Linked DNA regions of Homo sapiens. The protein of the gene in region 2 purifies or fractionates together with the protein of the main gene of each other region. This does not show direct contact. Each region holds a gene or a part of one and is shown on either strand. Other genes may lie near its edges.

Evidence for each region.
Region 1: the proteins of HSD11B1 (region 2) and TMX4 purify together in Homo sapiens (affinity purification with mass spectrometry; 3 studies listed by BioGRID and IntAct, with this or other methods). This does not show direct contact.
Region 3: the proteins of HSD11B1 (region 2) and UGT8 purify together in Homo sapiens (affinity purification with mass spectrometry; 3 studies listed by BioGRID and IntAct, with this or other methods). This does not show direct contact.

The regions. Positions count from the first base shown.
Region 1 is NC_000020.11:8,015,442-8,026,948, reverse strand, and holds the start of TMX4 (thioredoxin-related transmembrane protein 4 precursor), read left to right. Parts: upstream 1-7,187; 5' UTR 7,188-7,335; coding exon 7,336-7,511; intron 7,512-11,507.
Region 2 is NC_000001.11:209,706,038-209,716,806, forward strand, and holds part of HSD11B1 (11-beta-hydroxysteroid dehydrogenase 1), read left to right. Parts: intron 1-671; coding exon 672-783; intron 784-905; coding exon 906-1,091; intron 1,092-10,769. UniProt on the Homo sapiens protein: Controls the reversible conversion of biologically active glucocorticoids such as cortisone to cortisol, and 11-dehydrocorticosterone to corticosterone in the presence of NADP(H).
Region 3 is NC_000004.12:114,663,268-114,674,036, reverse strand, and holds part of UGT8 (2-hydroxyacylsphingosine 1-beta-galactosyltransferase precursor), read right to left. Parts: intron 10,043-10,769; coding exon 9,900-10,042; intron 8,358-9,899; coding exon 8,281-8,357; intron 5,953-8,280; coding exon 5,733-5,952; intron 1-5,732. UniProt on the Homo sapiens protein: Catalyzes the transfer of galactose to ceramide, a key enzymatic step in the biosynthesis of galactocerebrosides, which are abundant sphingolipids of the myelin membrane of the central nervous system and peripheral nervous system.

The DNA.
Region 1 (11,507 bases), on a different chromosome or scaffold from region 2:
AAACAAAACAGACAACTCAGAAATTGAATTACATATGTACCAACAGACTACGACAGAGTGGTAGATTACTAGGGAAAGTTACTACAGTTCACTAAGTGTTTCTGGTACAACTGGGGACCCATTTGAGAAAAGATTAAATTAAACTCCTACTTCACAGTATTAAAAAGTTAAAGAGTGAAAAGGCCTGAAAAAATAAAGGCACAATTGGAAAACTTTTAGGGATAATATAGGAAAAGTAGCTTTGTAGCCTTACATTAAGGAAAAAAAAATTATTAAATAGGTCACAAAAGGTACTAACAAAAAGAAAAGTGTAGGTAAATACATTAAAAACTTTAAGAAATTGTATTAATCAAAATGACATCTAGGGACTGGTGATTATTAGAGAGCAGAAAACATTATTGAGGCAAATTTTTCATACACTGAAGTTGTTTTTCTTGTTTCCTTAATGTACAATTTGAGGCACACAATTGGTATAGAATATTATACCAATATTTCATTTCCATTTACTCTTACCTTAAAATTGACACATGCCAGTCTCCCAATATCATGTAATCAGAAAGTATAATAAAAAAAAAAATGAAAGGGGGAAATAATTACAAAACGTAAGCTGTTGTGATTTGAGTCCACTGAAGATTTTACAATAACAGCATGGCTAGTCCTAATCACAATTGCTTTAACCCCAAAAGGAATCATCCAACAAACTGTATTGGTATAAAATGTATATTTCTGATCAGCAGTATGTATGAACTGCTTTTCATATACATATGTCATTTGTTTTTTGTTCTTCTATAAGTAATATTCCATATTTTTCAGCTGGTTTGAATATCTTTTTCTTAATTATTTGTAGAACTTTTTGAATTTCAGTGACACTAAACCTTTGAGTGCTATCTATAGTTCAGATCATTTCACCTGGTTTGACTTTGCTTGATGTTTTTTTAATTGTGTGGCAAATTTCCTAAAGCCCTTTTATAGCTTCTGTGTTTCATATGTTACGTAGGAAGGCTTTGCCCACTAGATGATTATATAATTATTTTCCAAACACTTTTCCAAGAGCAGTTTAAATTTTGTGCTCTTTCATTAGTGGATCTAGAACTTATTTTGGATATAGATTGAGGTAGAGATATACTTTTTTTCTTAATGAAGAGGAAATTGTTCTAACACTATTGTATATTAGTCGAATTTCTCCCACTGGTTTGAAATGTCATGTGTGAACATTATTATGTTCATCAATATTTAGTTCCCATGTTAGACCATCTTTTCTTTCTTTTAGGCGAGGTCTTATGATTAGTTCTGGCCAATGGCCTATGAGCTGGATTGCTAGGTGTTACTTGTGGATAAGAAAGAAAAAGCTTCTTGCCGCCTTTTATATTTCTGTGATCATGGAAAAAGTTTCATGTTGCGACAGCAGAGATACAAGATTTAAGCAATGTGTATTGTGTAGACCCTCCCCAAGTTATAGTTTCCCTACAGAACCTCTTCGTCCCAAAGTCAATTTTGCACAAAAGAGAACTTAGCTTTTTGAGTTAAGCCTCTGAGATTTTAGGGGTTGTTTTTTTACTGCTGCCTAAGTCTATCTTATCCTGACTAATATACCACCTTTAACCTATCTAAATACCCGTAAGCGTATGGTTTTGTTTTTTGAGTCTTCATTCTGAACCATTCATTTATTTGCTTCTTCTCATGTCAATACCTCCCTCTTCAATTGTAACTTTATAGCAGATTTTAATATCTAAGAGGGCCAAGACCTACATCATTATTCGTTTTCAAAATCCTGTTGGCTGGTTTTAAGCATTATTTTTAAGGTAGATCTTTAGAATTCTATAGAAGAGAACTTGGTGAGATTTGCAATGGTATTGCATTAGATTTATAGATTTATAGATTAATTTATGATAATTGTCATATAAGGTCCTGCAGTTTTTTCTATGTCTTTTATATTTCTATTAGTTTTTTGAAACATAAGGGTTTTTTTTTGCTATTGAATGAGATCTTTGTCTACATTACATTTTAAAATTAATTCTAAGCAGTGTACAGGAAAATAATTGACTTGTATGTTTCTCTTGCATGTAACTGCTCTTTTCCTCAGCTCATTTATTAGTTCTGAAAATAATTAGATGATTTTCTTGCACCATGACATTGTCCTGGGGTTGCTTCTTAGAGGCTTATCAAGTCTTCTGGATTTGTCTCTAGGCACAAGCCTGGGTGCAATTCAGTGTATTTTCATCATTCATGGTTTCTTCTACCATCTGTTCTAGGAAATATTACTGTGTCCTATTTAAATTCTCCATTCTACCTCTTGTTCCTGTAAGGCATTTAGCAAATCTGTTTGTGTAATTAAATTTTTGTACTATTATTACTTTATGGACTAATTTTACAGCATTGCTTAACTTATTTAATATTTCCATACTGGTTTTACCATCTTCGTTAGGAAAACCATTGTATAACTATACCCTATTATTACAGAGTTTGTAATCTGAATACCATCTCCTTATCTTTCATTGATTATCCTCTTAATATCAAGTCCTGACCTACTTTTATCAAAGGCATTGTCTATAGCTATGTATTAAAATTTTCTACCATTAGAATATAAGTTTTATCCCTCTTGGTAAATCGTTTTCCTACTCCATTATTCAAGGGTAAAATAGGTGTGTTTACATAATTCTCAACATACACTTTTGAATCTTTTTTTCAATAAGCTTAACAAAAATTCTGTAACATTTAATGAACACTTAAATACCAAGGCATCAATCCATCTACCCGCCCACAGGCTTGAAAATCATTTTCTCCAATACCTTTGCATAAGATGCATCTTACAGGACCTACTCACAGAAGGTAAAAACGGAGAGGCAGTTCTTACTCTGCTCTCTGAAAATATCACCTCCCCTCCAAAATAAAGAACTCTCAGCTGTTCATAAATAAGTATTCAAAGGAAGGCAGTGAGTTAGTCAAAATAGGCTAGACTATGCTTCAGTGACAATTCCAAATTTTCAGAGTGGCTTTTTGATAGTATGGCTGCAATTTATTTTGCTGCTTCTTATTAAAGGATAGTCTAATTCCTCTCCCCTTCAGTCTGGTGTGTCTTCAGTGCCTTGACTAATAGAATGAGGTAGAAACGACACTCTTAGACTTCTAGAGCAATGCAGTTTCCACCTTCTGGGAACTCTTGCTCTAGAGAAATTAAGTATGACAGCCCTCAAACTGCCATGCTGAAGGAAGCCGAAGCCAGCCACATGGAGAGACTGCGTGGATAAGAGCAATGCCTGTGCAGTCCCCAGCTGTTCCAGCCAGCCTACACTAAGTGCCAGATGTGGGTGCAAGGGACTTCAACTAATTCTGGCCTCGGCCTCCAGGGGTCTGCCACCATATAAAAGAGTACAAGCAAATATAGCCCAGCTGAGCTCTTGAACCCCCAAAACCATGAGAGGTGAGTTTTGGGATGGTTGATTAGGCAGAAATAGTTAACCTGAATAATCTCTCATAGTGAAAACGTATTTCTTACCTTTGTAAAGTCCTTTTAAGAATCCTGGGAACCACCCAATGCTGCTATTCTCCACCAGGCAGCTCAGCAATTCAGGCTGCTCTGGTCTTGTAGACTCTTAGATCATGATCTTTTCTCTAAAATTTCCACAGCAGGAGAACAGAACACTGGGACATTTTGTGCCGGTGATTAAATACTTCAGCCTGGAAATGATACATACCCACCCCTTCCATTTGTAGCCCATTGGCCAATTCATATAAATATGACTAACTTCTGAGGGGTGTAGGAGCATCCTCCTCTGTGGGGCAGGGAAAGAGAGGGGGACTAGATAGGATCTACCACACTCTTCTTCCCCTCTCTCCTGCTAATGATGTTACCTCATCAGAGGCCTAGGAATTCCTTTGCCTACTAGGAACCACATATTTTTGTGTAATCATAGCTGCCCTGCAGTGCCACCATCACTCTGGGGGAAAAAGCCTTTTCTCCTAGTACCAGGTACCAATCTTCTTAAACCTGTAAATCCACGTTTTAAACATAAACATGGATCACACACTGACCTAGCATAGCATTACAGCATAACAAATTGCCCCAAATCTTAGTGGCTTGATATTATGTAACAACATTGATTACCTCACAGTTTCCGTGGGTGGAGGTCCCAGCTAAGCTAAGCTTTGCCCCCTGGTTCTGGGTCATTTATAAGGCTCACCCGTCTCAAGAGCACTGGTGACAGATTTGCTTCTAGGTCACTCATGTGGTTGTTTGAAGATCCAGTTCTTTGAGGGCTGTTGGGCTGAGGTCTCAGTTGCTTAGGCTGCAGACCTCCCTTGTCACATGGAGCTCTCCACACAGAGTCGCAGAGTGAGTGTGCAAGAGGAAAAGAAGTTTCCAGCAAAATGGAAGTCTCAGGTTTTTGTAACCTTAACAAAGAAGTGATAATCCATCAGTTTTCCCATCTTCTGTTAGAAGTGGGTCACCAGGCCCAACCCACACTCAAGAGGAAAGGATCACACAAGGGCCTGAATACCAGGAGGGAGAGATCTTGGGAGGAGTGCCAGAAGCTGTCTATCCCAAGTACATCTATGGGATGGGTATTCTGCAATACAGGGGACACAAAGATATATAAGGTAAAGCCCTTGACCTTGAAGAGTTTTTAGTAGTGGTTGGAGGAGTGAGGGTAGAGGGTGATAGCTACATATAAATGCATTATACTATGAAAGGTATGTGGTGAAGTTATTGTATTAGTCCATTTTCACGCTGCTGATAAAGACATACCCGAGACGGGGTAATTTATACAGGAAAAAGTGTTTATTCAACTCACAGTTCCTCATGGCTGGGGAAGCCTCACAATCATGGTGGAAGGCACGGAGGAGTAAGTCATGTCTTACGCGGATGGCAGCAGGCCAAAAGAGAGACAGCTTGTGCAGGGAAATTACCATTTTTAAAACCATCAGATCTCATGAGACTTATTCACTATCACGAGAACAACATGGGAAAGACCCGCCCCCATGATTCAATTATCTCCCATGGGGTCCCTCCCACAACACGTGGGAATTAGGGGAGCTACAAAATGTGATTTGGATGGGGACACAGAGCCAAACCATATCAGTTATACAGAAGAGCAATTGGATCTGAGAAGAGACAGCAGCTCATTCTGCATGAGCTATCAGAGGTACAGTGTGGACTACATGACAGAGACTGAATGATTCACTGGACAACTGGAGAAGAGTGTTCTAATCAGAATGAAGGAGCAAGGAGACACTGAAGTACACAATGTGCTTTGGGAATGGGGAGTAGCTTTGTGTTACTAGGACACAGGGAACTCTGGGAATAGTGGAATGTAAAGTGGGCAAAACTGAAGCTGGGCTGTGAGAGGCATTGTGTATCATGCTAAGTGAAGTTAACTTTAGTATAAGAAAAATAGACATTACAGCGTATTGTTGCCTCCAAATAATAATATTAGTGTTGGCAATATTGTGGCAAAAACCACAATTATGTTTGCACCAACCTAATATGTAAGCTTTTTGAGTTAGAATATGTGCTAGGCATTATTCTTATCTCATATAATCTTCACAGCCACCTTTTGGAGCAGGTTCTATTACTACCCGCATTTTAAGAGAACTTTGGTGTGGACTAGTTTTAGCCCCAAATCACATGGCTAGGAAGTGTCAGGGCTAAGATGCCAATCATGGTCTGACAGCAACAGGTCCCTTACCCTGGTCTGTGACTCCTTACGGCAAGGTCAGTCCCATACTTCCTTGCTACTTTCTTCCTACCATCCTTAGTCTGAAGGCTAAGACTTCAGTTTTTGTTAAAGATAGGAAATGCTTTGGTAATGGCTGTCTTTCATGCTGAAGATGCTCTCTCTCCTTTTAGCTTTTCATTTTGTAAATTTTCCAACATATGCATGAGTAGGTAAAGTAGCAAAATGAACTTAGCTTCAACACTGACTGATGTTGCACCACTTTTCTTTCACCTATCTTCTTTCCATTCCCTACATTTTATTTCTGGAGCATTGTAAAACAAATTCTACACATCATTCTATCATGAAAGTGATAAAATGACAGAATTCCTGTTTATGAGTCACTTCTTTTTACAAGCACAGTAAAATGTTTTCCATTGAGTTTATGGAATTGATATGTATGTACTTAATAACAGTGAGTCTTAGTAGCATTCATTGCAAAGACATTTTCTTAAATTTCAATAGTTTGTAAACCCTTGAGTGTTTTATTTTAATGATAAGGGCTAGGTCCACATAGTTTTTAGCTAATACTAATTAATGCATAATGCAGGCCAGATCTTCTCTTCAGGCAAAATTAACTTCCCTCTCCTATAAGTATTGATTGAAATTTGCTCTCATGTGCCCTGAAGTACTTTTAGTCTTATTGCTGTCTTTGTTTTAAGCCGAGGGCAGAAACCACATCCTTTTCATGGTCTATTAACCACATTACCGAGGTTCATGGTTTGCACAACTAGTAAACACATACAAAGCACCCTTTGAGAAAGCTTCCTCATCCTTTAATTGTAATCCAGTCTTATATATTAACGGTGTGGTGGTCCCAAGGTACAGATTCATCTAATGTGACCTGGAAAGAAATTTGGAAATCACTTAAGGCTACCCTCATTTTAGATCTGACAAAACTGTAGTCAAGAGAAATGTGAGGTCCATTTTACTGCAGGTGGCAATAGTCTTAATTGACTCATTTTATCGGCTAGTACCCATGTTTTTAAGAGTTTCTATGAAATTAACATTTTTTGTAAAAAAAATGCAATTGCATAGGCTAGTTTCATCAATATCCTAAATTAGTGATGCTTCAATATACACATGCAGAGTACTTAAATTTTCCTCTCTCTTCAGCAGGAGATACTCACCACGTCCCTCCATTTTTCATTAAACATACGTGTACCTTGCAGCCCGTTGCTTTTATATTTGCTATCATTGAAGAGGGGATGGATTTTAAAATTACTGGCCATGTTTCCCTTTAGAGAAGCCCACACGCGCCAACCCTGCCCTTATTGGAGCCTGGGCAGCAGCGGTGCATGTTCTAACTTAGGCAACGTTGGGTCATCTGTTTATTGTCAGCTTGGCGGTCAGGAAGAAAGGGCGGTGGTTGCTGAGGTAACCGACACCCCGGGCAACGGCAAGTGGAGGCGGGAGGGGGCGTGGCCTCGACGGGCAAGCGGCGATAAGAGGTGGCGTCCTCCGCGGCATTGCGAGCACCGCCAGTCTGCGCCGCTAGGCGTAGGCGGGGTGGCCCTTGCGTCTCCCGCTTCCTTGAAAAACCCGGCGGGCGAGCGAGGCTGCGGGCCGGCCGCTGCCCTTCCCCACACTCCCCGCCGAGAAGCCTCGCTCGGCGCCCAACATGGCGGGTGGGCGCTGCGGCCCGCAGCTAACGGCGCTCCTGGCCGCCTGGATCGCGGCTGTGGCGGCGACGGCAGGCCCCGAGGAGGCCGCGCTGCCGCCGGAGCAGAGCCGGGTCCAGCCCATGACCGCCTCCAACTGGACGCTGGTGATGGAGGGCGAGTGGATGCTGAAATTGTGAGTGTGCCCGCCCGCCCCGGACGCCGCAGTGTCCTCGCGGGCGTCACCCTCCCAAGCCCGCGCGGCCCGGTGGCGATCCCGCATTGCCGCTTGGGCTCAACCTAAAACCCCGGACCAGGCTTGCCAACAACCTGCGGCGCCGGTGCCGGGCCGCTTGCGATCCTGCACTGCCGCTGGGCTCGACCTGGGGTCCGCGGACCCGCCTTACCAACGACCTGCGGCTGTGGGGCCCGGCCGCTCGCGCCGCGCATGCGCGCCGAGCCCTCGCGGTGACAGCCGAGGGTGCAGCGCGTCCCCTTGCTTTGGGGGACAGTGTTTTCGGGGTGGAGTGGGCAGCTTCCCATAGGGAGGAGAAGGGAAGGAAGAAAATCTGCAAGCAAACCGTGTGCTTTTAGATACAGATATGTATTGGAAGAGAAAGGACATTCAGTGACATCCACGTGCAGTATGAATACGTAGCACAGGCTAAGCAAGTTACCTGTTGAAGAAATTGCAGCACGGTGAAGGCAGGCCATTTGTGTCGTAGTCTTCCGTTTGAAGACCTGGAGATGTCATTGTGAGAATAAAACATAAATATGGATGCCTTTTAAATTTTACAGTATGATTTCAAATAAATGTTGATACTTATTATAACTTGTAAAGGTAGGACTTTCTGAGTAATATTAATAATTGTGCCATAAAGAAAAGAAGATACGCATTGCCCCTTTTAACAATAGAAAGCAAATGGTGGATAGTGCCTTTTCTTTAAGGAGATGGGAAACTACAGTTTTGAGTTAGGAGAAAGAAAGGGATTTGTTGATTATAGTTTAACCTTATAATAGGAAGTGACCATTTGAAAGAGGCTTGCAGTGGATGGTGGGCAGATGTCTGAGCGGGCTTGAGAGACCATCATGGTGGGCTTGCAGACTCTCTCTCTCTCTCTCTCTCTCTCTCTCTCTCTCTCTCTCTCTCTCCCCCTCCCTCCCTCCCTCCCTCCCTCCCTCCCCCTCTCTCTCTCTCTCCTCTCTCTCTTCTCTCTCTCTCTCTCTCCCTCCCTCCCTCCCTCTCTCTCTCTCTCCTCTCTCTCCTCTCTCTCTCTCTCTCTCCCTCCTCTCTCTCTCTCTCTCTCTCTGTCTCTCTCTCCCCTCCCACAACTCCTTTCCACCCTACCTGCCCCCCTCCCGCCCCCACCCCCCAAACATAAAATCTTTCAGGAAATTGCCACATCTCTTTAGCCTGTGGTTTCTGGCAATCTGTATACTACTATTGAATCTTTGTTTTACGTTGAGGACACAGACAGAAAATTGGATCTTTCCTTTATCCAAGACCAAGTTTTGATTCTTTCAATTTAAATTGCAAGCAGGTGCCTATGGAGTGAAAACCTCAGTGTGAGATCAGAGCCAAAATTTATGTCACACAGCAGATTACATTGCTCGAAGAACATAAGGCATATCACCCCTTCAAATGTGCATTTACCTCTTAGTCACAAAGAAGGGGATATTTTAGACCTCCAAATGAAATACCCTTGGTATCATAATAAATCAATGAAATTATTAAAGGGAACTGTAGACATGAATTATTAAAATATTCCACTTAACTATTTTTGGAAGAAGGTGAGGGGGTCATATTCTATTTGAGAAACTTTTAAAATAAGTGGAGCTGTGTTAAGACTTCCATGTTTGTAATAATTTTAAGAGTTTGGGATAAACTGCATTTTGTCAGCCAATACTACAGAAAGTTCTCTTTTCAGTAGGTGCTTACAAAATGGACTTTTTCCTAGATGTCATCTTTCAGGGTAAAACTGAGTTTGCATATGTATGTAAGAAAAGTTAAAACAGAAAGGCCTCCTCATTTTTAATGACTTCAACTCCTCTATGGTTCCTTTTGGAATTGCTTTTTTTTTGGTAATAGAATTAAGAACACTAAAGCCTCAATAAGTTTTTGAGGGAGAGCCAACAACATCTGTGCTTGGCCATGTTGATGGTTCAAATTTTACTTTTTTATGAATGTATAAACCTAAACATAGTAATCAATTGCTCTGAGTTTGTCATGTGTCCAGTTGTATGGAATATGCTTGGCCTGTGATGCCAGATGAGTCTTGTAATCTGGAAGTAAGCTGTGTAGACACAAGGTCATTTTAGTAGACATTCTCTTTTTATCGAGTGCACTTCAGAATAGGTGGCTAGGAAGCAAGGCTGTCAATGAAAATTGATCCAAACCATTCCATCCAACTTCTTTATACGCACTAAAACCCAAGTGCTCATCCTGAAGAAATATTTTGGTTCTTATCTATTTGTGATCTATTTTTTTCTGTATTATCAGGTGATACTCCTCCTCCTTGCTGTGAAAAAAACTCCAGTACTTAAAAAAATATAAAATTCATTATATCCTCCATACCACTAGAGGCCTGCTATGAATTTCTAAGAATTCATTTAAATAGCCTATACGTTACCAGATTTTTTTTTTTATGTATATAACAGAGAAAAACAAAATGCATTAAAATTAGCTTCATCTTGACACTTAGTTCAGATGAGCTGGTCATACATAAATGGAAATTGTTAGTAGTTCAAAGATGTTGTAGTTAACTTCTTTAAAGAAACAGATTGAGAAGCTTTTGTTGTAGTTAACTTCTTTAAAGACACAGATTGAGAAGCTTTCCGATATCAAAATGTATTCATTACTTTGAATGAGAGTTCTTTATTTGTTCATTTGCTTATATGCGCTCTTTCATCTGGGAATTTTTTCTTTTATACGCCACGTCATACAGATCCCCTCTAATGCAGTTTCTGGTTATATTGGTATAGATAATTTATTCTTAAGAATCTAGCAGTATTTGGCAGCCCTGAGACATGAAAAGCTTCTATTATGAAATTAAATTTGGTTATTTTTTCTTAGTCTTTCAAACAGTCAATTTTTTGGATTCTTGCAATTGAATTTCCAGTGTTTTAAAAATGTATGAGTTAAAAGTATATTTGCAGTAATTCACCGTTTCTATTCTGATGATTTTAGAAATCTGAAAAGTTCTCCCATTGCTACATACATTTTCTTTAATGCTATGGGCTTATTGTTGTTATTATTATTTTTTAGATGGAGTCTCACTTTGTCGCCCAGGCTGGAGCGCAGTGGTGCGATTTCAGCTCAGTGTACCCTCTGCCTCCCGGGCTCAAGCAATTCTCCTGCCTCAGCCTCCCAAGTAGCTGGGAATACAGGCACCCGGCTATGGGCTTATTGTATACTCGTTTGCCCTTTTTCTGAATTAGGAAAAATGATCTAATCTTTAAACTACTGTATGATGCATGCTTTTCTCTATTGCCATTGTTTTATACTATTCTTCATTCAGTTCCTTTGCAACCTTTTGCTACTTTCAACATTTGCTTGGCTCTCATTATGTCAGTCCTGGAGAAAATGACTTTTGTTCTTTTGAAACATGGAAGTATGTAATATGATACATTCTGGTGGCTTTTTCCCCCAGAAGAAATAGATAGCCAAGTGGCTTAATTTTGACATTCAAGCTGATACTCAGAAGAAAAGTATGTCTTTGGGTTAGTTTACCTCTGTAAAGCATATAAATCTTTATAAATTATTGCCTTTTCTTATTTTTGTTTTTGGAATGATCATGTTTCAAAATTTAAATTAAACACCTGGTGATGGAGCAAAGCTTTGTTTATTTCCATAGGACATCTAGGTTTTAGTATTATCTTTCCAGCCTTCCTTTATACCTGGAGAGAATGTGTTGAACATCATTACCTTAACTTGCCCATGTCAAGTTAGAATTTCTTGCAGTTTAATAGATTGTCTTGATGTCTTGATGGAATGTTTGAGAGACAACTCACTAAATGCTTGTGTGTCAGGTTCAGTGTTGGGGAGCTGGGAAGGTGAAGAAGAATGAGCCTTCCAAGAGATTGTGCTCTGAAGGAAATATGTAGTATAAGTTATGTTCATTTATTTAGTAAATGTTTAATGAATGCTTCCTCTGTGTTGGACATTCATCAGTGCTTCCCAACAGGACACTAT
Region 2 (10,769 bases):
CTATATACAGAGGCACATGCACACACACAGACACTTAATTTTGCACTCTCATATATAGATTCAAACACCAAAAAACCCACAGGAATATAAAAGTATGCATTTAAGCATTCATTCATGTGTGTGTGTGTAATATATTCTGCAACAGAGTCCTTGAGTTATATATGCTCACAGACATGCCTAGTCACACACATTTACACATGGAACTACAGATACATACGGATGTTTTCAAAAACTGAAATCCCAGTACCTGCTTATGAATACATATCCTCATACCCATGCAGACTCCCAGACACATGCCCTCTCATGGACTCACAAACCCAAGGATGTACAAACATTCACAAACCTAGAGCTACCCACATAGTAACCAGCATCTACACTCATAATGCCCTCAGAAATGCCTATTCACAGAAGCCATGAGCATAAATCATGAACTTAAACCCCAGCACTGGGATGATTTATCCATTTGAACCCCACCAAGTTCCAGAAAATATTTCAGACAGAGGACGATGATCATGAGGGTTATATTAGGCAACACACACACAAACATACTTACCATTTCTTACCTAAACAGGGCTGTGAGCAATCTCTCATTTAAGCCCCCCGTTACTTCAGAGACTACCCCCCAAAAATCTGCAGCTAAGACTGATGCCATTTCTGCTGTATCACTGCAGGTGGTATCCCACTGCCTGGAGCTTGGAGCAGCCTCAGCACACTACATTGCTGGCACCATGGAAGACATGACCTTCGCAGAGCAATTTGTTGCCCAAGCAGGAAAGCTCATGGGTGAGGCTGTTTCTCTTACCTCCTCCTCTGAACTTTGCCCTTGGGGTCACCAAGAGCTTTTGGGAGGAGAATGGGAAAGGTATCAACCCCAGATGATTTCTTAATATAGCCATCTCTTGCAGGAGGACTAGACATGCTCATTCTCAACCACATCACCAACACTTCTTTGAATCTTTTTCATGATGATATTCACCATGTGCGCAAAAGCATGGAAGTCAACTTCCTCAGTTACGTGGTCCTGACTGTAGCTGCCTTGCCCATGCTGAAGCAGAGCAATGGAAGCATTGTTGTCGTCTCCTCTCTGGCTGGTAAGTGGGACAGGGACATATGTGGAAGGTAGAAGAAAAAAAAAAATGCCAGGGATGATGCCAGGCTCTGAAGTAGACATAAATTTTTATCAGTTTCCATGCAGAGAAGTAATGAGGGATTGGTCAAGGTAAGTGGGCTACAAAATTCTTTTAAGTAACAGAGAAAAAGCAGTAGCTCTGAGTGCTCATTGGAAGACTGAATTGTTTTCTACAAAGTAAGGTCAAAGGGACTTGAGGGGCTGCTGGAGGTACAGCCTGTCCTGGTCCTAAGGGAGAGACCTAGTTACAATATTAACTTGAAGTTGAAATGTTCATAGTAATATTAAACAAAAGCTGATTAACAGCTTACTCATATGCATGAATGGGCAGATGTACTGATAAGAGACTTGTAGGGGGGTGATTTGTGGACTCAATGAGAGGCACGCATCCTGAGTAAAGGAGACACTGTTACAAACTAGTGACACCATAAAAAATGAAGGATTGGTCAAGGTAGATGGGCTACAAAATTCTTTTAAGTAGCAGAGAAAAAGCAGTAGTTCAGAGTGCCTATTGGAAGCCTGAATTGTTTTCTACAAAGGAAGGTTGAAGGGACTTGAGAGGCTGCTGGAGGTACAGCTTGTCCTGGTCCTAAGTGAGAGACCTAGTCACAATGGATAAAAAGGACTTTGCTTCCTCCATGACCAAAAGGTTGGTGAAGTTATGTAAATGTGAAGGTACAACTGAGAAGTTAACTGTTTTAACAACACACAGGTGTCTGATAAGTGGGCTAAGCTAAAGCTAAATAAAATGAACAACAAGAAAAAAAAAAAAGATGAACAGACCTGCCTATAGTGGGTGTATTCTCTAAAATTTGAACATGTTAACATGAAAAGATCAATTTAAACAACCAGCTGGGTAGGGAGGAAATGTGTCCAGAGAAATGGTCATGAAAAGATATCTGTGGGATCAAGAGAGGTCCCTGGTGTTCTGGATGGTGGTAGCATCAGAAGCCATCACCAGTAAAAAACCAGTGAGTTCCCAGCTTGGGACATTTCTAGGCCCATTTTTATCATAGATCCAGGAGACAAGTTCCACACATCTTTGTTGATTAGTCAGTTAGAAGGATGTGGCTGGAAAGTGCAAACACCAGGATCAAAATCCGCCATCTAAATGTTGTTCCTGGCAAAATAAAAACAAATAACCTAGAGGACTCTGTAAACTGTTAAGCACTTCACAAACATTCTTATTGAAACTAATAGCACCATCTGTATCGTAAAGAGTTCTCCTTTCTGGCCCAGGGACGGCCTGCATAGTGATTGGATAAAGGGGCAGTGTGTCTGTGCTACCCGCCAAACAGTGTGATTGATATGCATCCCGGTGCTTCCCAGACAACACACACTCCCCACCCCTCCCCAGACACAGACTCTCTCTGGGCTGGAAGAAAGGGAGAGCTTCCAGATGCATACTGAGTGGGAGGGTGCTGGGCACATCCCCAATCCATCCCAGGGCATTGGACAAAATCCTCACATCAGTCATGATGTAGGTGGCTTTAATGATTTCAGCTGATTAAATAATACATTCACTCTAGGCAAAGGATGTATTTCACCTTTGACGAATGTAACTTTCTAGAATGTACCCATGATCTAAATGTGCTCAGAAGGACTAAGAATTACTGTTGAGCCCAAGGACGTGATGAAATTCTGATAATCTCTGTTTCCCCATATCTCCTACACTTATTGAATGACACTTGGTAATTTCCATGAACTCTGGGAGGTAGGAAATCTAGCTGGATGAGTATCTTTGGTGTTTATTGCTTGTGTAGCCAAAAGATTCCAGCTTTTTTGCCTTGAAACCTGTCTATGAACTTGCAAAGTACAGACACATTGCTGTCTTGCCGCAACTGAAGAATATTCTCTGCTTTATGATGTATTCTTTTAATCAGTCAGTAAACATGTTCATTAATCCTTCCTCTTTAAAATCTAAACTCTATAAATATGGGATGCTAAACATCAAGTTGATCTTAAGGTCAGCCAAACAGTACTGGGATGGAGTTTTAATCATTTCTTCTAGGGAATACCTTAAGTTGTTTATTGAGTTTCAGTGATAAAGAATTGTTTTTTCTCCACAATGCATTTCTGGGTATTGCATTACATGGGAATACTATACTTCTAATATGTTCCTTAAAGGCTTGGTTACCTCTGTAGCATTAACAGAGACAATACTGCTGCTTCTGGGAACCTCCTTGTAGTCCACATCTATCCACTATTCACCACCTTTTCTTGGCACCTATTGAGCAAGTTTCTTGTATGTGTAACATCCCGTTACATTGATTAGCCTCCTCTCCTTCCACCACTTGCTAGTTAGGATGTAAGTTCAGCTACTGTAACGAAGACCCGAATTTACAATGGCTTAAGCAAATCTAAATTTATTTATCTCACACAAAACACCCTGGAAAGGCAGTCCAGGGCTGATATGGTAGTTCTGTCCTATGAGGCTGTCCAGGAGGCCTTCTATCTCAGAACCACCATTCCTAGAGTGCTTGTTTACACCTGCATGTCCAAGATGGCTCATTGGCATGTCTGAATTCTAACTCAAGAAAATGAAAAAAGAAGGATACCACCTGGAAGGTGTACACTTTTCTTCTGCCACAGCTGGCTGCAATTGTTATCTTTATTCAAAGGGAACATGTGTCCAACTAAAAATCAGAAGTTCTATTTGTGTAAAAGACACTGATATTGATAAACAACTAGCAATCTCTCCCACATCACCCATGCTAAAAAACACATAAGACTAGAAAAAAGTATACCCTCCAGGCCATCCCACATGTGAAACACACACACACACACACACACACACACACACACACAAAAGACTCATTCCCTCTCACATTCAAGGTCCATCACAAAAAACAAAGTCCTTCCATCCGGCAGTGCGTGCAGGGGACAGTGGGGTAGGAGAAAGAATGGAAAGAGAATACCTAAATAGCATTTGTGAAACAAACCAAAGTAGAAATATTAATACTTGAATATGACTAAAAAAAATCACTGGAGTGGGCAGAGAACATTTGAAAACATCTGGAAAAAAGTTTATCTGACATTAGTCAAAATAGGTCATCTTAGGTTCAATATTAGAAAAGTAAAGTTGGTTTCATTTTCGGGCTCCTGGGCTTGGTGAATCCCATCACTGTGGTGTGTGTCATCAGTTGCACACATGGCAGCTAGAACTGAGCATCTAAGGCCATTTCTCCACCTGCTTTATGCCCCTGAGAGGAATCACGGACAAACCCTGTCTTCCTCTGCTCCTTTCTCCTCTCAAAATCTACTTAGCCCCCTACCTCCTATGAAGTCTTTTTCAGAACTCACCAGAGCCATTTCAATGTTTCTTCTTTGTCTTTATCTACTATATTTTGGTAAGTTAACTTTAGAAATCCAACTTCCTCATCATTTCTCTTTTTTGGGTTTATTGGTAATCCAAATACTACTAATACTACTCATAACTACTAATAACACAAATGTTAAACATACTCGGCAAGCATACGTGTAGGGATAGTAATCCTTCTGGATCAAGGAAAATGCAAGGTATATTTTGAAGTGAAACTGGACATCACAAAAGACTCAGTTGCTTTAAATATTCAAAATGAAAATAGATCAGAAGGAATAAAAGAACCTTGTCAATAACCTTTGAATCAGACTTCTCTTGAGAAGCTCCATAAGTGTCTCCAGTTAACTATTCACTTTTCTCCAAGTAAATCTTCTTAAAAAATCAACTTTCCCTATATATAGATAGTCTTATTCAAATGTATTCCTTTCCTGTTTTACTCATTCGCAGCATTGTTTCATACTGTTTTTTAATGTACGTGTGCAGTCTTTCAGGCACTTTGAGTTGAGTTGACTAGCCGGGGGCAAACATTCATAAGACAGTGCTCTGTGGGAAAACTCAAACCAACAGATGAAGTCACTTGCTGGATCTTAACCTATTTGTCAGTGGAGGTCTGCCTGTGTGGTCTAAATCTATTTCAAAAATTCAACATTATGAAGTGGGGGGAGAAAAACAGGTTTTTCAACTACACATATCAACTAACAGGACTTGGAAGACCTATAATGATGTTTTGCATAGACAAGGATATACAGATGTTAATGTCATCCCTGCCTTCAGTTCTGGCATACCCACTCCTTCCTGAAAGGTGGGCCAATGTTTCAATGTATAGCTGTGCCTCAGGTTATTGGGGGTGGGGGGATCCCAAACTCCAGATTATGAACGGGCCTCAGAACCAGAGTGGAAAGGGGCAATTTATCCCTTGCCACAGTTGTTCTCATTTTTCTAAGAAAAAATGCCGCTTTACCCTTAAATCCAATTACCTCAGAAATAATCTTCAGGAACCAGGATTTCTGAGGTGAGTGGAAGTGTTTATCCATGTGAACGTAAGCATTTACATGAGGGATGGGGAGTGGCGATGGCTGCACAGGGTTGAGCTGTGTGTTGGGGGGATGGGTAGAAGTACGCAGAGGTGAGGTATGTGTTTGTGTAGACGTGTCATCCATAGGGCCTATAAGAATGCCAAGAAGGAGATCAGAGTAAAATCAGCAACCTGGGCATAAAAATTCCAGAAAATTTATTCTATAAAATATAATCATTGTTGTCTAAATTTAAGAGATCGTGTTTGGGCAACACTGTGAGGATTGAGACAGAATCTGCTAGATTTATCTAGGAATTCAGTTCTGCATCAGCCCCAAAAAGAAAGGAGTGGGGGAGATTTGAAAGGGAGGAAGACTCTTTGATGAAGACAGTGACAATTTAGTGCAGGTTGAGAATAATATAATGCTACCCGTAATCATTGTTGCTTCATGTTCTTTTCTGGAAAGGCTCGGCTGAACTTAGGTAGTTGAGGTTACTTATCCCTGCTAGACCACAGGTTTCATTCAAGTGCACTTGTGGATGGAAATAGCAAGGTTCTACCATCATTTGTATCTTTACGTTTCCTTACCAAGGAGTTTGAGAAGGCTTACAACAAATACATTCTATTTGGAAAAACACAAATAGAAAACTAGGTCTTAAGAAAAGGAGAATATAAATGTGCCCAAATTAGACTCAGTATAGATCCTGTGCTTAAGCTTCAATATTGGCACTTGAATTTCTTAACAATAAGAAAAAGAAAAGAAAAAGGACAAGATCAGTGTACAGCCAGCACTCTGCATGCCTGGGTTCTACATCTGTGGATTCAACCAAATGTGGATCAAAAAAAAATGGGGGGAAATAAATTAACAGAGTTCTAATAAGCAAAACTTGAATTTGCTACATGCTGGGTACTATGTTGAATTCACAGAAATGATATAAGGCATAGGCACCAAATTAGGTATTATAAGTAATCTAAAGATGATTTAAAGTACACAGGAGGATGTGCATAGGTAATATGCAAATACTACATCATTTTATATATGAGGGACTTGAGTATCTATGGATTTGGGTATCCACAGAAGATCCTGGAACCAATCCCCCTTTGAATACTGAGAGATGACTGTACTCAGAGTAGGAAAAATGCATGATTCTTATATTCATTTAATTGTTTATTTTTGTGTATTTTTTAAAGTCTAGGTCTTTATTTGTCATTTTGTCTAAGGTAATTTGGAAATATGTACCAGAAGCCTTAAGAATGTTTCCTTTGGCCAGGCGCAGTGGTTTACGCCTGTAATCCCAGCACTTTGGGAGGCCAAGGCAGACGGATCACGAGGTCAGGCATTTGAGACCAGCCTGGCCAAGATGGCAAAAGCCCGTCTCTACCAAAAATACAAAAATTAGCCGGGCGAGGTGGTGGGTGCCTGTAGTCCCAGCTACTTGGGAGGCTGAGGCAGGAGAATCGCTTGAACCTGGGAGGTGGAGGTTGCAGTGAGCCGAGATCGCACCACTGCACTCCAGACTGGGGCAATATAGTGAAACTCCATCTCAAAAAAAAAGAATGTTTCCTTTATTTCACCCAGTCTAAGTGCAAGAATATATCAAGGAAATAGCTATTAAATTAGTCACAGATTTAGGTACAAAAACATTTGTTGTAGGATTTTTTAAATTGCAAAACATTGGAAGTAACCTAAATGTCTGGCAGTAGGAAAATAACTAGTTGTACTATATATTTATATTTATATCTGTATCTGTATCCATAGCTGTATCTATATCTCTGGAAGGACATTTTCCAAAATATTAGCATGATTATATCTAAATTACAGAACAATGAATGATTTTTGTTTTTAGCTTCATATTTTTCTTCATTTTCCAAATTTTCATTGTGTGTGTATGCATGCATGTGTAACTTTTATAATCATAGAAACATTTCAATAAGTTGTTGGGTGTGTTGTTTTTTCCATTGCTTTGTGCCTCTTTTCATAACCTTTTATGAGAAATTCATTTCAGAAATTATTTGCTTCTTGCTGTGCTTCCTTCTTTTAAATATAATCATATACACACACCCTCAATTTCTTCAATGGATTGGTTCCAGGACCTCCCACAGATACCAAAATCCATGGATGCTCAAGTCCCTTGTATGAAATGGCATAGTATCTGCATATAACTTAGGCACATCCTCCTGGATACTTTAAATCCTCTCTAGATGACTTATAATACCTAATACAATGTAAATGCTATGTAAATAGCTGTTATATTGTATTATTTAAGGAATAATGACAAGATTTTAAAAGTGTGTATGTGTTCAATACAGACACAAAATTATTTCCTGAATATTTTTAACCCATGGTTGCTTAAATCCAAAGACGCAAAATCCATGGATACAGAGGGCTGCCTATATTGATTTCCATAAGTAGAAATTTGCTTAAGTACTTCAAGAGGAATGGTCAGGGAGAGAGAGCATAACTTCATGTCTGAGAAGTTTATTCTATAAACAAACTTGAACAAGTGCTTCCCAAATATACTCATTCATTCATTCATTCAAAAAATATGCATGAAGGTCAACTCTGAGTCAGGCACTATGCCAGATGCCAAGGCTATGGCAGGGAGCAAGAAGGCCAAGGCAAGATACCTGTTGTGCACCCACATTCTAGTGTAAGCCAAGTTGTTACTGTATTGTTTATAGTTGTAAAAACAAACAAACAAACAAAAACTAGAAACAACCTAAGTAGCAACAAACATAAAACAAACACTCTAAGGGATAAAAATCATGTTACAGATCTATTGGAAGGGTTTTTATTTCTTGGTATACAAAATAGTAGTATGTTTTACAACTGCTTGCCTCTGAAAGCTGTTGAAATACAGCATTTTACTCACAGTGATTAGGCTGTGCTCTCCTTAAAGGCAGGCACATTGTTCATTCATCTCTGATTCCCTGGAGCTAACAAATTTTGCAAATAATCAACACATTCTTCTTGAATGAACAAATGATAAAATAGCTTGCTAGTACCTGGATTTCTGGCTTCATGTCTTTCCTTAAACTGTGTTGGAGACTCACAGTCATATTTTCCCTCCATATTTCCTTTCTGTTTCTAGGCCTTCGTGTCAGGGCTTCTTAATAAGGATACTATTGGCCTTTGGTGAGGGACAATTCTTCATTGTGTGGGACTGTCTGATGCATTGTCGAGCATTTTTTAGCATCCTTGGCTCTGAATAATTCAATCTAAAAGCCACTCATAGAGGCCAAGCAAGATAGGCATCTTCACCGGGGAGGAAGGTGGCAGCACAGATTGAAAAACTTGAGCAGGATGGGACAGGTTTGTGTCACAGAGCAGGTTTGGGACATCAGAGACTGAGTGAGATGAGGATGGCATCCTCACATGGGGCAGCAGTGGTGGCCTAGTGTGAAGTTTCAGAGCCTAAGTGGGCCAAGGAGGCTCTTCATGTGGCACCTGGCACAGGGCATCAGAACTAAGGGGAGTGATGAGAGCATCTGCAAGAGGGCCTGCCATGGGCAGCCCGACATAGGGTAAAGAAGGCATTCACCAGGCATTCATGTAGCCTGGCACTGGGGTGTCAGAACCTAGGTGGGATGAAGAGGCCAAATGAAGAATGATCACATACAGGAGCATTAATCACATAAGTAATACATATTGCAGATCTTGGAAGCCCCAGGTTCTCACTATCAATGTTACAAATATGAAAAGGAAGAAAATGAGAATGAATCCTCTAGTGTTGGATTGCAATTGGAAGTGTGGGTATGAATTAATAGTTGTTTAATACACAAGGACAGATATATAAATATAGATGTGTGTCTACATATACATGCATGTATTCACTCACTCTGTCCACTGACAGGACCTGGGAGCACACTTGGTGCCCAGATCTTGTTTTCTAAATATCATTCTCCACTAAAAAAAAAAACAACAACAACAAACCACCAAGGCTTCTTAGAGAAATGACTGATTCCAGGGCAGTGGCAAGAAAGGTACAAGATAAGCCTGAAAATCTTGTTCTGCCAGTAAGTACAGAACTGCTCAAAGGATAATAGGCACACATTACCAGGACACAGAGGCCAACTTTAAAGGGATCCCACTAGCCAAACCTAGAACCATTGAGGCATCAAAACAAATAGTAGTAACAGATTATCACCCATTGCAACAATAGGAAATAAGTCCATGAAGTCATAAATAAATGCATGAATAAATAAATCAAGAGAGGGGAAGGATTTTTCATGAAGTGGAAAGCCAACTGATATGAAATGATGAACTTAGAAAATCACCATTTGGTAACCATAATTGTAATAATTCAGCCAGGAAGCAACAAAGGATGCTAAAAGTAGTGGGTAAAAGTTAAACAAGGAAGACGGTATTTACATAGTCTCAAAGTACTACCCTGTGCAACAACAACCAAAAACACCACAAATGACCTGATTCAAAAATGGGCAAAGGATATATGACAGACCCACAGCTAACATCATACTGAATGGGGAAAAACTGGAAACCTTTCCTCTAATAATTGGAACTAAACAAGGATGCCCACTTTCACCACTCTTATTCAACACAGTACGAGAAGTCCTAGCCAGGGCAATCAGGCAAGAGAAAGAAATAAAAGACATCCAAACTAGAAAACAGGAAGTCAAATTTTCACTCATTCACATGACATGATTTTATAATCAGAAAAGCCTAAACGCTCCACAAAAAAACTCTTATAACTGATAAACAAGTTCAGTAAAGTTGCAGTATACAAAATCAACATACAAAAATCAACAGTGTCCCCATATGCTAACAGCGATCAATCTGAAAAAAAGAAAAACCATTTACAATAGCTACAGAAAAAAAAAAACCACCTAGGAATAAATTTAACCGAGGAGGTGAAAGACCTCTACAGGAAAAACTATAAAACACCCATTAAAGAAATGGAAAAGGACACAAACAAATGGAAATATATCCCATGCTCATGGATTAGAATAATTAATGTTGTTAACATGACCATAATACCAAGAGCAATCTATAGATTCAGTGCAATTCCTATCAAAATACCAATGACATTTTTCATAGAAATAGAAAAAAAAAACCTAAAATTTGTAGGGACGAAATAGCCAAAGCAATCCTAAGCAAAAAGAACAAAACTGCAAGTAATACATTACCTGACTTGAAAATATATTAAAGGCTATAGTAACCAAAACAGCATGGTATTGGTAGGAAAATAGACAAAACAATGGACAAGAATAGAGAACCCAGAAATAAACCGATGTATTCACAGCCAAGTGATTTTCAACAAAGGCACCAAGAACATGCATTGGGG
Region 3 (10,769 bases), on a different chromosome or scaffold from region 2:
GTTGTTAGGAGTGAGAGAAAAAACAAATGAAGGCTATTACATAAAAGTATGTAATTAACAGGCACGTTTTCTCTCTCATCAATGCCTCATAAGAAAATTACAACCAAATAATAAATCTAGTTGTATTAAAAGTACAAAAACCTCACCAAATATTAAAAGGCCATCCTCAGTTGCTTTGTAATTTATCATAATTTCTAACTGATGGCAAAAGGGAAACTAGAAAGTTTCTACTACTCCATTTTATGAGAAAATGCTTATGGGGCAAAGGAGTATCTTTAAAATACAAAAATGAAACGTGACATCTTAGAAAATAAAATCCAATCTTTTATTTTAACAAAGATGGAAAAGAAGGATAAAAACAATCTTAAGTCTTCAGGTACCTTAATGTCACTGTGTATATAACCCTTTCTCTAGTGATGATTAAACAGATTAAACAGATGCTTTAATGGAAAATCTCACTTCTTGTACTCTTGAATAAATTATTAACTCATATGGAACTCCAATATGTTTACTTGGTCCTAGATCACTAATTATCAGAAAAGCTCTTGACATCTGACTCAGCTTATCTGAACAGGGACTTTCATCGGTCAGACTCTTAGTCCCACCTAGGAGTAGACTTATAAAGCTGGATTGCTAACTAACCGATTTCATTTTGTATGACTATTCTGTTCAGAGGAGGTCCATGGATCAACTGGAAAGGAATATTGGAGAACTCACAGATAAATTTTTGAGGGGCAGGTATTTTCCATGCTGAAACTGGTCTCAAATTTAATGTAGTGGCATTGTCCCATGAGCATAGTTTATTTTACAACTCAAAATTCCTTCCAGTAAGAATATGAATATTGCAAAAAAATAGTGTGATTAAAAATGGTCACTCCAGACACCTCTAAGTTATTCCAAGAGATCTCTTAGATAAAGCCCCTTTTAATAAAACAATTACCTTGTAAGGGGCTCACATGTACATTAAATTTTACAAAAGTATAAATATCTTCTATTAAAAGTTGACCACAGGTTGGATATGTGCGAAGTTAATAATGATCGATTCTCCATCTTTCTTTCTAACTTATTTTGTAATAATAAAAGCTCCAGACTCAAAGGAATCCTCCCAAACAAACAAAAAAGCAATAGGCCTTTATTAAATGAATCCAAAGCATTAGGAAACAGAGACGTAAGATGTGTAATTTTACTTAAGTTGTGGATTAATAAAAGGAATACTTTTGGGGGGTTTTGTTGTTCTTGTTATTTCTTCTAAAAGAAAATGGAATACATGTGCAGAATGTGCAGGTTTGTTACATAGGTATACATGTGCCATGGTGGTTTGCTGTACCTATTGACCCATCCGCTAAGTTCCCTCCCCTCACCCTCTACCCCCAACAGGCCCTGGTGTGTGTTCTTCCCCCTCTCTGTGTCCATACGTTCTCATTGTTCAAGTCCCACTTATGAGTGAGAACACGCAGTATTTGGTTTTCTGTTCCTGTGTTATGTGCTGAGGATGATGGCTTCCAGCTTCATCCATGTCCCTGGAAAGCACGTTACCTCTTTCCTTTTTAATGCTATATACTATTCCATGGTATATATACCACATTTTATTTATCCAGTCTATCACTGATGGGCATTTGGGTTGGTTCTATGTGTTTGCTATTATAATTGTATTGCAATAAACATACGTGTGCTTGTGTCTTTATAGCAGAACGATTTATATTCCTTTGAGTATATACCCAGTACTGGGATTGCTGGGTCAAATGGTACTTCTGGTTCTAGATCCTTGAGGAATAGCCATACTGTCTTCCACAATGGCTAAACTAATTTACATTCCCACCAACAGCATAAAGCGTTCCTATTTCTCCACAGCCTCACCAGCACCTATTGTTTCCTGACTTTTTAATAATCACCATTCTGACTGGCATGAGATGATATCTCACTGTGGTTTTGATTTGCATTTCTCTGATGATCAGTGATGTTAACCTTTTTTACATATGTTTGTTGGCCACATAAGTGTCTTCTTTTGAGAAGTGTCTGTTCATATCCTTTGCCCATTTTTTGATGGGGTTGTTTACTTCTTGTAAATATGTTTAAGTTCCCTGTAAATTCTGGATATTAGACCTTTGTCAGATGGGTAGATTGCAAAAATTTTCTCCCATTCTGTAGGTTGCCTTTCACTCTGATGATAGTTTCTTTTGCTGTGCAGAAACTTTAGTTTAATGAAATCCCATTTGTCAATTTTGGCTTTTGTTGCAACTGCTTTTGGTGTTTTAGTCATGAAGTCTTTGCCCATGCCTATGTCCTGAATGGTATTGCTTAGGTTTTCTTCTAGGGTTTTTATGGTTTGGAGTTTTACATTTAAGTCTTTAATCCATCTTGAGTTAATTTTTGTATAAAGTGTAAGGAAGGGGTCCAGTTTCAGTTTTCTGCATATGGCTAGCCAGTTTTCTCAGCACCATTTACTGAATAGGAGATCCTTTCCCCATTGCTTGTTTTTGGCAGGTTTGTAGAAGATCAGATGGTTGTAGATGTGTGGTGTAATTTCTGAGGTCTCTGTTCTGCTCCATTGGTCTATATGTCTGTTTTGGTACCAGTACCATGCTATTTTAGTTACTGCAATCTTGTAGTATAGTTTGAAGTCAGGTAGCGTAATGCCTCCAGCTTTGTTTTTTTGTTTTTGGTTGGTTGTTTTTGCTTAGGATTGTCTTGGCTATAGGGGGTCTTCTTTGATTCCATATGAAATTTAAAATAGTATTCTCTAATTCTGTGAATAATGTAAATGGTAGTTTGATGGGAATAGCATTCAATCTATAAATTACTTTGGGCAGTATAGCCATTTTCACAATATTCATTTTTCCTATCCATGAGGATGGAATGTTTTCAATTTGTTTGTGTCCTCTCATTTCCTTGAGCAGTGGTTTGTAGTTCTCCTTGAAGAGGTCCTTCACATCCCGATAGCTGTATTCCTAGGTATTTTATTCTATTTGTAGTGATTGCTGAATGGGACTTCATTCACGATTTGGCTCTCTGCTTGCCTATTGTTGGTGTAAAAGAATGCTTGCGATTTTTGCACAGTGATTTTGTATCCTGAGACTTTGCTGAAGTTCCTTTCAGTTCAATTTTGGGGCTGAGACAATGCGGTTTTCTAAATATAAAACCATGTCATCTGCAAACAGAGACAATTTGACTTCCTCTCTTCCTATTTGAATACCCTTTATTTCTTTCTCTTGCCTGACTGCCCTGGCCAGAACTTGCAATACTATGTTGAATAGGAGTGGTGAGAGAGGGCATCCTTGTCTTGTGCTGGTTTCCAAAGGGAATGCTTCCAGCCTTTGCCCATTCAGTATGATACTGGCTGTAGGTTTGTCATAAATACCTCTTATTGTTTTGAGATATGTTCCATCAATACCTAGTTTATTAAGAGTTTTTTACATGAAGGGATACTGAATTTTATCAAAGGCTTTTCTGCATCTATTGAGATAATCATGTGTTTTTTTGTCTTTGGTTCTGTTTATGTGATAGATTACCTTATAGATTTACATATGTTGAACCAGCCTTGCATCCCAGGGATGAAACCAACTTGATCATAGTGGATAAGCTTTTTTTTTTTTTTTTTTTTTTTTTGAGACAGAGTCTTGCTCTGTCACCCAGGCTGGAGTGCAGTGGTGCAATCTCGGCTCACTGTAAGTTCCGCCTCCCAGGTTCACGCCATTCTCCTGCCTCAGCCTCCCCAGTAGCTGGGACTACAGGTGCCCATCACCATGCCCGGCTAATTTTTTGTATTTTTAGTAGAGATGGGGTTTCACCATGTTAGCCAGGATGGTCTCGATCTCCTGACCTTGTGATCCACCCGCCTCATGCTGCTGGATTCGGTTTGCCAGTATTTTATTGAAGATTTTCACATTGATGTTCATCAGCGATATTGGCCTGAAGTTTTCTTTTTTGTGTGTGTCTCTTCCCAGTTCTAGTATCAGGATAATGCTGGCTTCATAAAAGGAATACTTCTTTTACAGTATTAGTTACTTGGTTTAAACTAGAATATCTCGGACACAATATTAGTGAGGCAAACTAATATTTTCAATAATTATCACCTGTTAAATGTGGAATATTATCACATTGGAAACAAAGATAAGTGACTTCAGTTTATATAATGACTTTTAGCAAAGGACATGCTACACAAATCACTGGCATTTTTACATTGACTAAGACATCTTTCTATGCACAAAATCCTTTCAGTTAAATATTTAAGGTTTTCAAGTTACATGCAGTTAACTCATTATCTGATGTGCATACTTTTGGGAATGATATAAATTTATTCACTGCATTGAATAATCCTTAAATTAAGCACTTACATGTCTTCAATATTCTATAGCTGGAATTTAATTGCCATGTGACCTAAGATTGCAACCTGTTCTTGCTCTGATTCAGCCTGGTTCATGCCTCGCAAAACACAGCTGGACTAACTTCCTGTGAATAACCTAGATTTTTGCTCTTTCCTTTTCATCTGAGCCAATTTCAGCAGTTCTGCAACTGTTTCCCCATAATTCTACTTAGGGCTATATTTTACAAACTTTCCTGAAAGATTGAAGATAGATACATACATACACACACATATATGATACATGCATGATGTATATGTATGTGTGCATATATATATATATATATATATATATGTATATGAAATAACATCATGTTTTGAAAAGCACACCTTTAAAGAAAAACTATAGATAACAGAAGAAGGGATATACTTAGGCAACCCTAGTTATGGAACACATTGCTCCAATGGCAGAGCTGTATCCGACACTGGATCCTTTAAGAGTCCAGAGCATGAAGGTCACCCCTGAGCTCACATAAAGGCAGCATAATGAACTTCAGTTGAATTCAGCATTTTATATGCAAGCTGCATCCTTTTATATGAAATAATTTTTCTTATTATTGGTTGTTCCTTAGAATGTGGCAGTGTTTCTCAAGTGTTTCTCAGTGTTAAGCCATATCCCCTAGGCATAAAAAGAAAAAGCTTATACGCTTCTAATATTTAATGCTATTGGAAATGCAAGGTAAATTAAATATAATATCTACAAATGAAGAAAACTGCTGCTTTGTTTTAAAACTACACAGGCCAGTTCTTCACCCTTTGAGACTCATTGGTGAACTAGCTTAACTCAGGACCCATCAATAATTTAAAAAGCAAAATAAAGATTCTGCTTCATCATTCACCTGAGTAAATAAATCTCCGTATTTCTGCAATACTCAGTGCTAGGGAAACCCAGCAACACCAGGCTTACCATGCAGTACAAAGAACACTGTCTTGGGAATCAGACAGTCCTGGCTTCTAATTTCAACTACAATTGCTGTGTAAGCCAAATTACTCAAGTTCCATGAATATCAAGTGCCTTGCCTCTATAATGTGGATAATAAAAACTGTGATATACAGCTGTTATAAGTATGAAAATGAAATAAAGCACATAACATTTGACACAATGTAGATATCCAAAGATTGTTCCCATTGCAGTTTCTCCCTGTTTGGAAGATCCTTGCAGAATATTATCTGGTGTCATAACATGGCTGGTCAAATGACTGCTGTTTTCATTTTCTAAATAATAGAAAACATGCACAAAGCATTATCACAGGAATCTAAAGGATATTTCCATAATTTGATAATTTATTGACAATCTATTGAAAATAATTGGCTACTGACAATATACTGTGGTATGTAAGTTCATCAGCTTTAATGTTAATTGAAACCTTACCTGGGATTATTGATAACCTTCACTAGTGCTTCATAGAGCTCTTTTTCAGTAACTGTCTTCCATTCTAGCAATATCCCCATGCCTTTTGCCTGTACTCTGGTCATAGTATCATAATGGTCTCCAAAGAGTGGAATTCCCACTACAGGCACACCATGATATATAGTTTCAAAAATACTGTTCAAACCACCATGGCTCAGGAAGGCTTTAATCTTTGAATGCCCTGAAGAAAGATGAAAAAGAAAACAACTTACAACATTATTACTCTACAGAAGAGATTTTCCCAGAAATTCATTAAAAATCGGCACTACAGTAAACATGCATTTCAGATAAAGGATTCCTAAAGGTGTAATTTCACTGATTCCTGCTCTACACCAATTAAAATATTTGTTATATACCTAATTGTCAGATTTTGATATATCAATTAAAAGCCATTTTTAAGTAGTTGAAATGTATATTACTATTTTTAACACAAATATTGCATGACTAACAACACATATTTAAATGGCCAATAATTATTATGAAGCCAATGAAAGCAAGAAATGCCAAACAATACCAGAGTGAAAAAACAGACATCTACTTTCTGGCTACTCAAATGTTTATCAATATTAAAGTCAAAAACACTTTTTAAAAAAAATGTAAAAAAGGGCTGGATTCCAGAAGTCCATGAAGAGTTTGTGTGCTTCTCCAAAAAGAAATGTTGTAATCACTATTCACAACATTCAAGTTCTATCAGCATTAATATTTCACAATTTTAAGGTTTAATTTTACATTTATGTGCTCAAACATGTAGAGGTAAACATTTATAATCATTTGTAAGACATGAGACATCACATAACATTTAGTTGTTATGGGAATAAAAAAGATAATTTGTCAAAATTAATATGGAAGTTCAAAACCTAGATTTACTCTCCTGGTAAATGGCCTACATTTCTATAAAAGGGATCAAAAGTTGGCATAAGAGTTGTAAAAACAAAACAAAACAAAAACATTGTACTTAGGATATATGTTATTGGCCAGAAAGAAATTATAGCTAGCTGAAATGTCGATCTTTTAAAATACACATGTGCCAGGTACAAAATTAATATGTATGGGAACCATGGTCTCAATGGTGCTCCCAGAGCTCTTCCATTCTGAAGACTGGTGGAATTGGTTAGTCAGTGTCTCTAGCCCTTACCCACAAGTGGCTTTTCTGACTCTTAGGTCCAACTAAAGGATCTGCCCTAGAAGTGGATTTCAAACTTTATTTTTAGCAAAAACCCCTCTCTTTGAACAAAACCTACCACCAAACCCAACAGTTAAATAAAGCAGAGCTGCTGTGTAAAGAGGAGGGGCGGCTACGAGGGGAGGGGAAAGACATTGATTTGGTTCCTACTTCTCATCCCGGAAGAATCTTTTGATCATAGTTAGAAGCTATTAGAGGACTCACAAGGATAGTGCCTATTGTTAAAAAAGATACTAATCTTGAAAAAGTCAGAGTTCTCACACTGAGAAGCCTAGAGCAGCTATGGACTTGAGGAGAGTTTTCAGGCATGGACCTTGCAGTAGAGCCTCACAGTCAAAAAAAAGAAAAAAAGAAAAACAATAAGAAATGGAAAACCCACACACAATAAAAGTTTAGATGTTCATACATAACAGTGTCACACTGTCGCACTGAAATAGTTGATAGTCAGGTTATCTCACTTAAACTTCCTGCTTCTTTCCTATCTTCTAAGGAATCTAAGTCATAACAGTAAAGCCATAAAAGATTTAAAAATAAAAAAATACAAGGATCAAGAAAGGTAAATTGCCTTGTATTCTTTTTTCTTTAGTTTTAGCATTTATAGAATAGTATTATAATAAGCTAGATGAAAATAAATTATATACATAAATAAAATTCTTTACTGGTTTTTAGTTAAATTTAGTTAAAAAACTAATTTAGTTAAAAAACACACTTAAAAGATACGCATATACTAATTACTATTTTAATTTTGAGAATCAAAATCCCCAAGATTAAATAATATAAAATGCTTCAAAAATGCCCAATGATTTAGGACTAAACAGAGCAGATAATCCAGTTAAAGTTAAAATAAATTGACTGTTCCCATGGTCTTCTGCTTCTCTTTGGTTTCAGACAAATGAATAACTTCTAATTTCTCTTGGTTCTCAGACCATCTGTAACAAACCTGTAACCTAAATCTACATTCTTATTGTTTTAACTGTTCTACTTTCATCTGATTACTCTAATTAGGTATAATCTTATTCACTACTAATTTATATAGTTCATTAAGTACATAATTTCCAGATAATTAAAATTGATGGCTGGTCTAAAAATTTTAATATAGAGGCCCAAAGGTTTACATTTTACAAACTGTTTTCCAATAAATAAAGACTTAAAATTTTGGCCTCAAATTTAAGATTTGAGATACTGGATAAAAAACATAATAACTCTACCATATACTACATACATACCGTATACCGTATGAACCTCTGAAGTAAAAAAAAAAAAAAAGTCACATTTATGTAATTAAAACCTAACAGCCAAGTAAGTAACCACACATCATTGACTTACCAAGCAGGTCATTTTGTGGTAACCATTCTATGAGTTTAGTGTTGTTTCCTAGATTCTTTGGTTTGGGTCCAGAAAACCTAAAATGTACACCAGACAATTAGTCTTTTAAAAATCAAACCTTACTCATAGTATGGGCTCTCTGATTAAATTATGAGATTTAAAATAAATGTTTGATGATCTTTTGTTGATATTCTTAAGAATGAAACCATGCTTTGGTAACAGCAAATATTTGATTAAGTTTCTTTTTAATAAAAACTTTCACTGGTTGGAGGAAAAACAAGAAATAATTTGCTTACATAGAGATCTATTTTCCATTGGTTCCTCACGCCTATACACATACAGAGATGGGAAAAACAAACAAACAAACAAACAACAAACAAATAAACCTACACTAGAAGTTATTCCCCACAAACAGCCAGAAGCTGGAACAAGAAGGAGCAGGGAGAGCTGCCACTGCTATGGCAGTCAATATCCCTAAATCCTTAACACCCTGAGTCTGAGGGAAGGCAGAAGTATTGAAAAAAATCAGTAAGTTCTCTTCTTTAGCTTCACCAGAAATAAAAGTTTTGTGGGGTGAAGCACATAATTAGGTTGTTTCCTGCCTGATCTTTAAAAGATAAAACAGAAATATGCTTAACAACTAAGAGGGTGACAAAAGAGTCTGAATGGAATAGACATAAACTGTCCTAAATGAAGCAGAAGAGGTACTTTCTGGGGTTAAGCCTAACAGAGGAAACCCAATGGGACTCGAATCTGAAGGGAAAAGTCCTGAACAGTTAGAATAAAATAAATATCACTGCATAGTTCAGCCAGGAGAAGTGGGAGCTAATCCTTACTCATTTGCTATAAAGGGAAAATCTCTATTACTCAAAGCCTACTTGCAATGGCTTAAGGGGCACTTTCTTCCACTCATGGTAGTAACTATGGGACCGACGTTGTATCCCTAGAGTTCAACAGTGGTAGTACGTGCTCAATAAATACACGCTAAATAAAGTGTTCACGTCTGATTTTTCAGCATTGGGCTGGAAATTCCAAAGACAGTCATGTGCTGGCAATGCCTTCCAAAAGAAGCTGGGGTCAATCTATGGTTCTGTCTTAAACCGTGTTAAATGGTACGTGATTGTGTTTTTAAAGGCCAGGTTTCTTAAATAAAATAAATCAAAAACATAATGTAAAGGAGACAAAGTGGGAGCCCAAAAGAGTCCACGGTATTTTAGGTATTCGTTAATCCATCATTTTCTTCCTCATTTCAAAACTGATTTGAAGGAGTATATAAAAAGGCATGCAATTAAAACTAATTTTTAAAATCATAATAAATAATAAAAGAGTAAACGAGGGTAGAACTCTGAGGGAAATGTAAGTATGCATCTGACACAAGGAAAAGTCATTCTGAATCATATCTTCTTTCTGTGCTATATAGGTCAGAGGTTTCTTTAACCATCATAGAGCCTTATGAATTAATTCCTAGATTTCAACAAGCTAAGAAACAAAATGAAAGTCAAGGGCATCTTGCTAATCTTGTCAGGGAAACAATGTGCTGTGCTTTACTGGGACCTGTGCACTAAACAAGGAGATATTGATTGTCAATAGCAAAGAAACAATCTACATTATTACCTTACCTCCAAATCACTTTTTGAGGCAATCTCCCCAGAGCTCCTGCCAGTTTGTTAGCAATGTCTTCTGACAGATACTTGACACCAGCTCCAAAAGACACCAAGACAAAGCCATGTTCATTAGCACCATTTACCCATCTTTGGAGATCCTGTAAATCAAAACATGGCAGTAAGTTTTACGAAGACCAATGTAGTTTATAATTGGTGTTATTAACAGCCCAGTTAAAAAAAAACCTTTTAAGTAATTTTCTTAAACAATTAGAAAGTAAAGGATATGATATTTTCTTCTAAATAACTGCTTTTGTTTACAACATTTCATCTGATAATGCTAACTGAAATGAGGACATGTGGTTTATTTGGTAAGATCTGTAAGTAACAAAAACAACTTAAAAAATCAGTTGCTAAAGGCTTAAAATCTCAGAAAAAGGTCAAAAATTGGAAATGACAACTGATGCATGTTCAGAAAAAAATTTGTATGCAGACACAAACAAAAGATGTGGATTAAACATATGAAAAATCAATCATACTGGCAAAAATTTGTTAATGTATCATTTACAAATTTTTGCCAGTATGATTGATTTGTGTTGAAAATCAAAGCAGTTCATTTTAAGAAATACCATCCTTACTTCATTTTGTTCTATAGGCACAAGCTTGTTTTTAATGATGCCATCCTTTTGAATAAATCTTTGCCAAAGACACCCAGCTTCAGTTTCCCATAGGAAAATAAATAGAGCCACGGCACGTTGAGGAACACATTAATTCCACTGTAAGAATGACACACTTGCTGTGCATTGATGACTCCTATGCCATAATGCAGTCATGAAAGCAGAAGCCTGACCCATTCTGTGTTCATAATGTGTAGAGTGAGCTGCCACA